Homo sapiens: one gene and its partners. The protein of the gene in region 1 purifies or fractionates together with the protein of each later gene. This does not show direct contact. Each region holds a gene or a part of one and is shown in the gene's direction. Other genes may lie near its edges.

Evidence for each region.
Region 2: the proteins of MYDGF (region 1) and PDIA5 purify together in Homo sapiens (affinity purification with mass spectrometry; one large-scale study listed by BioGRID and IntAct). This does not show direct contact.
Region 3: the proteins of MYDGF (region 1) and CMBL fractionate together in Homo sapiens (co-fractionation; one large-scale study listed by BioGRID). This does not show direct contact.

Annotation. Positions count from the first base shown.
Region 1 is NC_000019.10:4,656,916-4,660,366, reverse strand, and holds the end of MYDGF (myeloid-derived growth factor precursor), read left to right. Parts: intron 1-363; coding exon 364-436; intron 437-2,282; coding exon 2,283-2,362; 3' UTR 2,363-2,822; downstream 2,823-3,451. UniProt on the Homo sapiens protein: Bone marrow-derived monocyte and paracrine-acting protein that promotes cardiac myocyte survival and adaptive angiogenesis for cardiac protection and/or repair after myocardial infarction (MI).
Region 2 is NC_000003.12:123,073,522-123,077,174, forward strand, and holds part of PDIA5 (protein disulfide-isomerase A5 precursor), read left to right. Parts: intron 1-3,653.
Region 3 is NC_000005.10:10,297,855-10,301,507, reverse strand, and holds part of CMBL (carboxymethylenebutenolidase homolog), read left to right. Parts: intron 1-3,653. UniProt on the Homo sapiens protein: Cysteine hydrolase. Can convert the prodrug olmesartan medoxomil into its pharmacologically active metabolite olmerstatan, an angiotensin receptor blocker, in liver and intestine. May also activate beta-lactam antibiotics faropenem medoxomil and lenampicillin.

The DNA of each region.
Region 1 (3,451 bases):
TGCTGGAGGCCAGGAATTTGATTCCAGCCTAGGCAACATAGCAAGACCCTATATCTACCAAAAGTAAAAAAAAAATAGCCAGGCGTGTTGGCATGCACCCATAGTCCCACCTACTCAGGAGGCCGCAGCAGGAGGATCACTTGAGTCCAGGACTTTGAAGCTGCAGTGAGCTATGATTGCACTGCTGCATTCCAGCCTGGACAGTAGAGTGAGGTCCTGGCTCAAAAACAAAAAAGTCTCCTCTCCATCTCTAGTAAAAGTAGAAAGCTTTAGTCTGTGCTTCTCTGGAAAGCAAACTCAATCGTTTTCCTAATGATGAGCATTGAACTGGCCCTGGTAAAGTTTCCACTCATTCTTTTTCAGTCTAAAGCCGCATTTGAAAGGGAAAGTGATGTCCCTCTGAAAACTGAGGAATTTGAAGTGACCAAAACAGCAGGTACGGAAAGATGGGGATGGGGTAGAGGTGACGCCACCCCCATCCAAGGGTGGGCAATCGGGGCAGTTTGGAGAGGGGGGTCAGCCATAGGGGTCCTGGAGACTGTAGACCAGGCATCCACAAACTGATTCTATAAAGGCCACCTCGTCAATATCTTCAGCTTTGTGGCACTGTGGGTTCTGTCTAGAGCTGTGCCATTGTGGCACAAAGCTGCTGCAGACAGTATGTCCATGCGTGGGTGTGGCTGTGTGCCACTAGAACTTTATCTTAGCTGGGCGCGGTGGCTCATGCCTGTTACCGCAGCTGCTCAGGAGGCTAAGGTGGGAGGATCATTGGAGCCCAGGAGGTCAAGACCAGCCTGGGCAACATAGCGAGACCCTGTCTCTACAAAATTTTTTTAAAAATCAGGCTGGGTGCGGTGGCTCACGCCTGTAATCCCAGCACTTTGGGAGGACGAGGCGGGCGGAACACTTGAGGTCAGGAGTTCCAGACCAGCTGGCCAACATAATGAAACCCCATCTCTACTAAAAATGCAAAAAATTAGCCAGGCGTGGTGGTGCGCACCTGTAATCCCAGCTATTCAGGAGAATTGCTGGAACCTGGGAGGTGGAGGTTGCAGTGAGCTGAGATCATGCCACTGCACTCTAGCCTGGAAGACAGCAAGATTCTGTCTCAAAAAGAAAAAAAATTAGCCGGGCATGGTGGTGTGTACCTGTAGTCTCAGCTACTTAGGAGGCTGAGGTGGGAGGATTATTTGAGCCCAGGAGGTCGAGGCTGCATTGAGCTATGATCGCACCACTGCACTCCAGCCTGGGCATCAGAGTAAGACTCTGTCTCAAAAACAATAAACAGGGCTGGGCATGGTGGCTCACACCTGTAATCCCAGCACTTTGGGAGGCCAGGAGTTCCAGACCAGCCTAGCCAACATGGTGAAACCCCTTCTCTACTAAAAATACCAAAATTAGCCAAGGATGGTGGCACATGCTTGTAATCCCAGCTACTCAGGAGGCAGAGACAGGAGAATCTCTTGAACTTAGGAGCAGGAGGTTGCAGTGAGTCGAGACTGCACCACTGCACTCCAGCCTAGGCAACAGAGGAAGACTCTCATCTCAAAAAAAATAATAAATTTTAAAAAATAAATAAATGAAATAAAACAAAGTAGAAACCATCAGGGCTTTGAGGTTGGGACTGTGGCATGCCGAGGGGAGGCTGCAGGGGTCACTGGGAAACATCAGGGTCCTTCTTCGGTTGCCTGAGCAGCACCGGTGTCCTCAAGCCACATTCAGCTGCATGGCGCCAATGCTAAGCAGAAAGAGGAATCGGAGGCGCCGAGCTGGGGCAAGGGTGGGAGCCAAGGGAGTGGACACAGCAGGTAGGGCCGGGAGACTTGGGTGAAGCAGTGGAAGCCAGAGTTCTGACCCTGCTGGAGAAGTGTCATGAGGGCCTCAGACAGGTTCACCCACTGAGCAGGAGGTCTTGCAGCCTGACCCACCCTGCATCCTGTTCAGGCCGGGATCATCTCCTTCCTGGGCTTCTTCTGGCCCCTTTCTGCATCTCTTCTTGACAACATGGCACAAATGACCAGGGTTCTTCCCACCTCAGGTCTTTCTGTGGCTTCCTGCTGCCTGCCATCTATGTTAGCCCCACCGACCTTACCCTCCACATCACTGTTTTCCTGTCTGTCACCCGTAAGACTTTCAGTGCCTGGGGCCTTTTCACATGGGAGTCTGCTTTGGAGACTGCTCCCCTTGCCTGCTTAGCCCCCACCATGGGCCCCACCCCAAATCCTCCGGACTTCTGAGAATTTTCAATGTTGAGGGCCCAACCATGTGTTTCTTTCTTGCAGTGGCTCACAGGCCCGGGGCATTCAAAGCTGAGCTGTCCAAGCTGGTGATTGTGGCCAAGGCATCGCGCACTGAGCTGTGACCAGCAGCCCTGTTGCGGGTGGCACCTTCTCATCTCCGGTGAAGCTGAAGGGGCCTGTGTCCCTGAAAGGGCCAGCACATCACTGGTTTTCTAGGAGGGACTCTTAAGTTTTCTACCTGGGCTGACGTTGCCTTGTCCGGAGGGGCTTGCAGGGTGGCTGAAGCCCTGGGGCAGAGAACAGAGGGTCCAGGGCCCTCCTGGCTCCCAACAGCTTCTCAGTTCCCACTTCCTGCTGAGCTCTTCTGGACTCAGGATCGCAGATCCGGGGCACAAAGAGGGTGGGGAACATGGGGGCTATGCTGGGGAAAGCAGCCATGCTCCCCCCGACCTCCAGCCGAGCATCCTTCATGAGCCTGCAGAACTGCTTTCCTATGTTTACCCAGGGGACCTCCTTTCAGATGAACTGGGAAGAGATGAAATGTTTTTTCATATTTAAATAAATAAGAACATTAAAAAGCAACCCCACAGCCTGGGCCCTCCCGGCTGGCCGTTGCGGGTCAGGAGCTCAGACGCGGCTGACACTGCCCCACCGTGGGCGGGTGGGCGGTGTCTCTGGGTGGGACTTCTCTGCAGGCATCAAAGCGCTAGATCCCAAGGTGGCTGTATGTGAACTTGCCCCCTTCCCCCCTTGGCACTCGCTGTCCCTGGGTCCCCCACATGTTGTGAATTCACACCCGGGTTTCTGTGGCTGCCACAGGCCCCAGCGCGGGAGGATGTTCCAAGGCCGACCTGCTCTCTGCAGCCTGGGGCATTGGTTTCCCTTAGTTTGTTTTTCTTTTGAGACAGGGTCTTCTCCTGTCACCCAGGCTGAAGTGTAGTGGTGTAACACGGCTCACTGCAACCTCCACCTCCTGGGCTCAAGCGATCTTGCCACCTCAGCCTTCCAAGTAGCTGGGACTACAGGCACACGCCACCATGCCCGGCTAATTTTTGCATCTTCTTTTGATAGAGACAGCGTTTTGCCATGTTGCTCAGGCTGGTTTCGAACTGAGCTCAAGCAATCCACCTGTCTCGGCCTCCCAAAGTGCTGGGATTACAGGCATGAGCCACTGTGGCCAGCCTCCCGTAGTTTTTTGAAGCTGGGTTGCA
Region 2 (3,653 bases), on another chromosome or scaffold:
CCCTATTGCCACCCTACATCAGCAGGGCCTCTTTCCACATACCAGTTTGCAACCACTTCTAAATAATTAGCTTTGTGATCTTACATTGGGGGGTTGAAGACACTCATGGAGTGTGGGGTTAAAAGAGCCTTTATTCCTCAAAGTCATACTGAGGCCCCAGTCTGATGCACATTCCATTCCTAGATGGTGTGATGGTGGGCCTGTGTCTGGCTTCAGAGTTTCCAGCTCACTAGAGTTGCGGGGGCGCAAGGGTGGAGTGTCCATTCCCTGCAAAGAATCCTACAGTTCCTCCAACCCCTTGGCGCAGGCAGATTTCTGGAAGTCGTGAGCAGGTCCTTTAATCCTTGTTGGAAGATGTTGATGAAAATCAAGGTTGAGGGTTGTAAACTGGGGCTTAAACATAAAGGTGATCCAGTATCTGAGCCCAGATGTGGGCCTGGTAGGAAAGCTCTGTTGTTTGGGCCAAGTAGGGAAGGGTCTTGAGGAACGAGTGGGTTTGTTCTCATCACAGGGTCTAGTCTTACTGGGTCCTGGGCAGAGTATTAGTACATGCCCCTATTTCAAAGGAAGGTGGACCAACATCAGCATCCTACATGTGCCACAGATGTTCATTCATTCAACAGATACTTCTTTTTTTTCCCAAATGGATATTTCCTTGAGAATCTTTTATGAGCCAGGCCTCATGCTAAGGCATTGGGGATAACCATAAATAAGACAGACACCATCTCTTTCTCTCATGGCCTAGTGGGACAGCCACTGATTAATTATTTAATTCAGGTAGTAAGTGCTGGAAAGAGAAAGTGTTAATATAATGTGGTAAGAGAATGTATAACAGGGATCCCTAACCTAATTCAAGGAGTCAGGAAAGCCTTCTCTGAGAACCTCTGGGTCTTTCTTAGAATAATGTTTTTAAATGTATAAAGTAAAATGCATAGAATTACAAAGAAAGCAGTTTTATTGAAATACAGTTATCAAAATATAACAACAAGGTTGTGATAAAATAATATTTATGTTTATTAATGCATCATATAAAAAGATCAAAGGTACAAGCTTGATAACTTCTATAATTTTAAGTTGTGATGAGCATAAATAGTGTTTCAGGATATCTTGTAATGTGATAAGAAAATATGATTTCTGTTGGTGGCAAAGTCACAGACACTGCTACCCTAATTACTACTGTAATTTGTTATCTACATTCATAAATGTAGAAAGCATTTATACATTTATAAATACATTCATAATACAGGAAAGGCTAAATTTCAGTTAGAGGTTAGTGAAGATAAAGATGTCATTTTTCTCCATCCAAATTCGTAGACTACAGTGGAAAAAAATTATATAACACTTGGAAATAAAAGATGATTTTGTGACATTTTAGTATCATACTGGAGTATTGTATAAGAAACCACCTAAGGACCAGCTGTGTTCTAGGGGATGTAACTCTGTTTATTATTTTTTATGGGCCATACTTTGTAAAGTTAAGTAGGATGCAAATTATTTCTGTTTGGTAAAGAAGAGAAGCACAAAGATTATTGCCCTGAAGGACATTAACCTGTTGGTATCTAATGTAGCAATCTTATATCAGGATTATATCCTCTTTTTTAGGGTCTCTTATTAGCGAGTTAAGTAAAACTTTGAAATATGCTCAATACCTATTTGTATGAGAATTAGGCTTTTAACATTTTAGAACTGTACTTGACTCCAGTTCAACTGCTGAGTGAGCAGGACGTAAAGATGTGTTGCTTAGAAGAGAGGTCTGATCTGGAGATGTTAATTTAGGGGTGCTGTTCAGGAGAGTGGGTGAAGTTGGCTGGGGGACCATATAGGGTAGGAAGAGAGGGTAGACTGAGTGAGCTGTGGAACTTCAACATTGAAAGAATGGGGAGAGGAGGGTTTACAAAGAAGAAAGGAATGATTGCTAGAGAGGTAGGAGGGAAACCAAGTGTCGCATCCAGTTCAAGAGGCCAAACAAGATGAGAACTGGAAGTGCCTGTAGGGTTTATCTATAGGAGGTCATTGTTGAGCCTTCACCAAGAGCCTTTTTTGTGGTGGTTGTGGGGAGGGCAGATTTCAGAGGGATGAGCAATGGAAGGAGGGAGGAGAATGGGAGGAGCAGGGGAGATGGAAAATTCTGGCTGTGAGTGGAGAGGGGAGTGATATGGGGTCCAGAGAGAGAGTTTTTAAAAGATGGGTCAGTGATGGAGTTTCTTCACCTTAAGGAGATATGTGTAAAATGGATTCCTGGGCTCCCAGCCCCTGGAGATGTTTTTCTTCAAGAATAAAGCCCAGGAATCTGTATTCCCAGAATACCGAGCTCTGCGGTAAAGCTACAAAACTAGACACATTTCCAAGTTAATCTTATATGGCTGGTGGTATTTTGCCAGCCGAGGTGGGTGCTCTCAATTGAGTGTGTAGCACAAGTTCTGCTCACATTGGAGCTGTGTCACCATTGTCTGCTTGGTGTCACTTGGCCTGAGCATGTGCTTTTCTCTGAAGGGATTTGGGGGTTTGTGGACATGCTGGTAGCAGAGGGAAGATGGATCAGGTTGTCATTGTAGCTCTTTTCAGCAGGTCACGCTCAATAGCTGGATTGGAAGGGACAGCAGACTTGCCAGCCTCTCGGGTATTATTCTGGGTGGAGCAACGGGGAGTGGATGATGCTCCAGGGATGTCTGTGGGAACTATTCACATTGACAGCCCAAGAGAAAAGCATCAGATCTGTCCTGGCGGGGACCTGGCTCTACTGTTTTAGGCTTAATCCGAGGCAAATCCCTTCTCTGAGCCTCAGTTTTCACATCTCTAAAGTGGGGATAGTACCACCTCTGCCTATAAACACTCATTGTTTATGACAATTTTTCAACTCCTGCAAGAACAGTTATACATTTTACAGTGTAACCCAGTACACACTGGGCTCACTGAATGCATAGTGTTGCTACCTGTGCTACTCACTGATGTTTTCTAGTCAATGTAATTTTTTAAAAATGCTACTGTAACTCACTGATTTTATGACTAGACTCCTGGGTTGAGACCTGAAGGGTGGAAACAGTGGCTTAGACTCTCAGCTTCAGAGGATGAAATGAGATCATGTGTGTAAAAGCATGGATGTACACCGTGGGTCATGAACACTGAGTTGTTATTTTCTTATCAGTTAACGGAGCTTGGAGGCAGAGTTGATTTCCGGAGTGGGAATTCACCTGCTCTTCCTCCCTCCCTGCTGCCTAATTCAATGTTCCCTCTACCAGTTCTTCCTCGTTAACAGGCCTGGCACACCAAGCTGGCGGTGATCCAGACCCCTCTTGGCTCAAGAAGAGGTTTTCCAAAACATTAAAAGCTTTAGGGACTTAAGTCCTGGCTAAATGCACTGCAGTTGCAATTTCAGGATAAGAAAACCTGTTTTCATAAGCTCTCAGATAAGTTGCCCTGCCCCTGAATTGTCCATTGTTGACAGCAACATTTGTGCCATGGGGAATAAAAAGGGGAGACACTGTGCTGCGTAGCCCCAAATGTAAGGTGTGGCTTTTTAAAGGAAGCAAAATATAAGAAATGCAGCTGGACTTGTATTTACAGCAGCAGGCAGTAAGATGTGTGTGGTTCTGGGAATCTGTCTTCCTTATGCCCCAACTCTGGTGCTGGAGTCTGTCAGACTTGGGTCTGAA
Region 3 (3,653 bases), on another chromosome or scaffold:
CGCGCCCCCACCCCTTACCTTTGGTCATGGTGTTGATGATCGCTGTATTGTGAGAGCAGAGGGAAACATGGCTTGAGAGTTTTTCTGAAATGGTGTCAAATGACAATGTTGAATTATTGAGTCTTACTAATTATAGTTCTATAATGTAGCTTATGAAAACCAAACCAAGAAAACTACAGTCCAGTTGTCCTTGATTGGATAACTAGTTATTAATTTCTTTCTTCTCAAAATCTAATTACTTTATTTCTAATTATGAAACACTAAGAATATTCAGTAATGTGAAGGGAATTATATAACAGCCACCCTTTCACATCACCCATATTTGAAAGATAATACCCTTTTGCCCTATATACTTCAAATCAAAACTTTTTAGGGAAATAAAACATAATAAAGCCCACGATCTCCATTTTTTCTCCCCTCTCTTCCCGGTAACCAATTGTCCTAATGGTGATAATTCATTCTCATGCGTGATACTTTTCCTACAGTATATTTATGAATAAAATGTATATTTTTGGTTGTTATTTATTTAGCATCAAAATGTATGTTTTTTGGTTGTTATTTAGAATCAAAATGCTATGTCTTTTTACATAGCATTATGTCTTTGAGATTTTTCAAGTTTTGTATTTCTATTTTTAAATAAAAATAAATATATAAAAAATATAAATATATATAAATAAATATATAAAAAATAAATAAATAAAAATAAAAATAAAAATGTCTCTCTTTGTTGCCCAGACTGGAGTGTAGTGGCATGATCATAGCTTACTGCAGCCTTGAATTCTTGGGTTCAAGTGATCCTCCTTTCAGTCTTCTGAGTAGCTGGGACTACAGGTGCATGCCACCATGCCCGGCTAATTAAAAAAATTTTTTTGTAGAGACGGGGTCTCCCTATGTTGCTCATGCTGGTCTCATACTCCTGGCCTCAAGCTATGACCATGCCTCGACCTCTCAAAGTGCTGGGATTACAGGCCTGAGCCACCATGCGGGTCTGGAGATTTATTATATTGATAAATTACAGGTGCAGCCTGTTCATCGAACTGTTGTGTAATATTCTTTTTATGAATGTATTTGTTTTCTAGGGCTGCCATAACATTACCAGATACTGGGTGACTTAAAGCAACACAGTGCCTCATAGTTCTGGAGGCCAGGAGTCCAAATTGAAAGTGTCAGCAGGGCTCTGCTCTTTCTGAAACCTGTAAAGGAGAGCCCTTCCTTGCCTATTCCAGCGTCTGGTGGGGGGCCAGCAATCCTTGGCTTGCAGGTGCATCCTTCCCATCTCCACCTCCATCTTCACACGGCCTTCTCTTCTGTGCGTCTGTTGTGTCTTTGTCCACGTTTTCCCCTCCTTAGAAGGACACCAGTCATTGGATTTATGGTCTACTGTACTCCAGTATGACCTCATCTTAACTACAGGACATCTGCAAGGACCCTGTGTCTAGTTAAGGTCACATGCACGGGGAGTGGGGGATAGGACTTAAACATGTATTTTGGGGGAATACAATTCAACCTACATCAATCAATAAATTACAGTTTATTCATTCTCCTGTTGATGGTCAATTAGATTGGTTCCAGGTGTTGTCATCATATTAGTGGTGCCAAGAACATTTTTCCATAATCACTGCATGTGCCTGTGTGGGCATGTGCAAATTTCTCTCTCTCTCTCTCTTTTTTTTAGATAGGGTCTCACTCTTAACACCAAGCCTGGAGTGCAGTGGTGCAGTCTTGACCTCCTGGGCTCAAGCAATCCTTCCACCTCAGCCTCCTGAGTAGCTGGGACCACAGGTGCACACACCACCATGCCTGGCTAATTTTTCTGCTTTTTTTTTTTTTTGGAGAGATGGGGTTTTACCATGTTGCCCAGGATGGTCTCGAACTCCTGGGCTCAAATGATCCCCCCGGCCTTGGCCTCCCAAAGTGCTGGGATTACAGGCATGAGCCACCATGTCCCACCACATGTGACATGAATTTCTCTAGGGAAACATCTAGTGGTGGGATATCTAGGGTGCGGGGCATCTGCTTCTTTAACTTTGCTAGACTCCTTCCAGGGTTTGTATCATTTCACATGCCCTCCCATTTCCCTACAAGTGTACCATCATCTCTGTGTTAACAGACTTTTGCCAATCTGCAAGATGGAAAATAGTATTTCATTCTTGTTTTTATTATAGTTTCCTTAAGAACAGTGAGGTTGAATATCTGTTCATATGTTTATGGGCCATTCAGGTGTACTTTTTTGTAAATTGCCCATTCATATGAATTTTTCTATTGGGTTGTCTTTTTCTTGGTGACTTATAAGAATTCTTTATATATTTTATCTAGACACTAAGTCCTCTGTTCCTAAAATAATACCTTCTCCTAGTCTATCTTGTTTTCTCACTTTGTTTATGGAGACTTTTATCTTGATATTAATGTTAATCATTATCTTATTAATCTTTCATCTTAGTTACTATCTTATTAATGCAATTTTAAGAGCTTTTTGTCATGGAAAATCTCAAGCATATATAAAAGTAGAGAGATTAGTACACAGGACACTCCAGCTGCACCACCATCAGCACGTGGACACCTTGTCCACCCTACCCCACATGGAGCTATTTTGGGTTTTTGTTTGTTTGTTTTTTGAGATGGAGTCTTGCTCTGTCGCCCAGGCTGGAGTGCAGTGGCGCGATCTCGTCTGACTGCAGCCTTTGCCTCCTGGATTCCAGTGATTCTCATGCCTCAGCCTCCGGAGTAGCTGGGATTACAGGCGCTCACCACCATGCCTGGCTAATTTTTGTATTTTTAGTAGAAACGGGGTTTTGCCATGTTGGCCAGGCTGCTCTCGAACTCCTGACCTCAGGTGATCCACCAGCCTTGGCCTCCCAGAGTGCTGGGATTACAGGTGTGAGCCACCGCACTCAGCCCAAATGGGGCTATTCTGAAGTAAATCCCAGACCTCTGGTCATGTCATCTGTGGGTACATCATGATATCATGATGCATCTATGAAAGACAAGGACTCAAAAACACATGGCTGCAATGCCATCATCTTCCCCTGCCAAAATTCACAATAATTTGCAATTTCATCAAATATCCACTTAGTATTCAGTTTTCTGCAGTTGTCTTTCCTTTTTTTTTAAATTGGTTACCATGAAATGGGATTTATAATCCTTTTCTTTATGGTTTATGTTTTTTGGGTCAAATTTAAGAAATTCTGCCTTATTCCAAAGTACAAGAAAAAAGTATTCAGTATTTCCTTCTGATTGTTGAAATTTCGCCTTTCCTACTTAGATTTCTAGCCACGCACTGGGGTATGTGGGGATCCATGGTGATTTGTTTTCTTACCTGGGTAGCTCAGTGCTGCAGCCGTGCCCCATTGATGGCCAGTCCCTCCTCCCCCCACAGGTCCCTCCTGCCCCCTCTCATGACTACAGAGCCCATTGTATCTGACCCCCTCTCTCTGCCTGCTCTGCGCCTGCTCTTCGCCTGTTCCCACTGCTGGACCTGGCTGGAGGAAACAGCCATACGTACTTCTCGCTGGTCCCCTGTTTTCCTGCTTATCCTCTCCCCAGCCCTCGTCCCGCCTCTCACCCTGAGCTGCTGACTCTGCTTCTCAGTTCTGTGAGCAAACAGATGCCAACAGGGAGCATCCACACTCTCCCGCCCCACACCCACCACCACC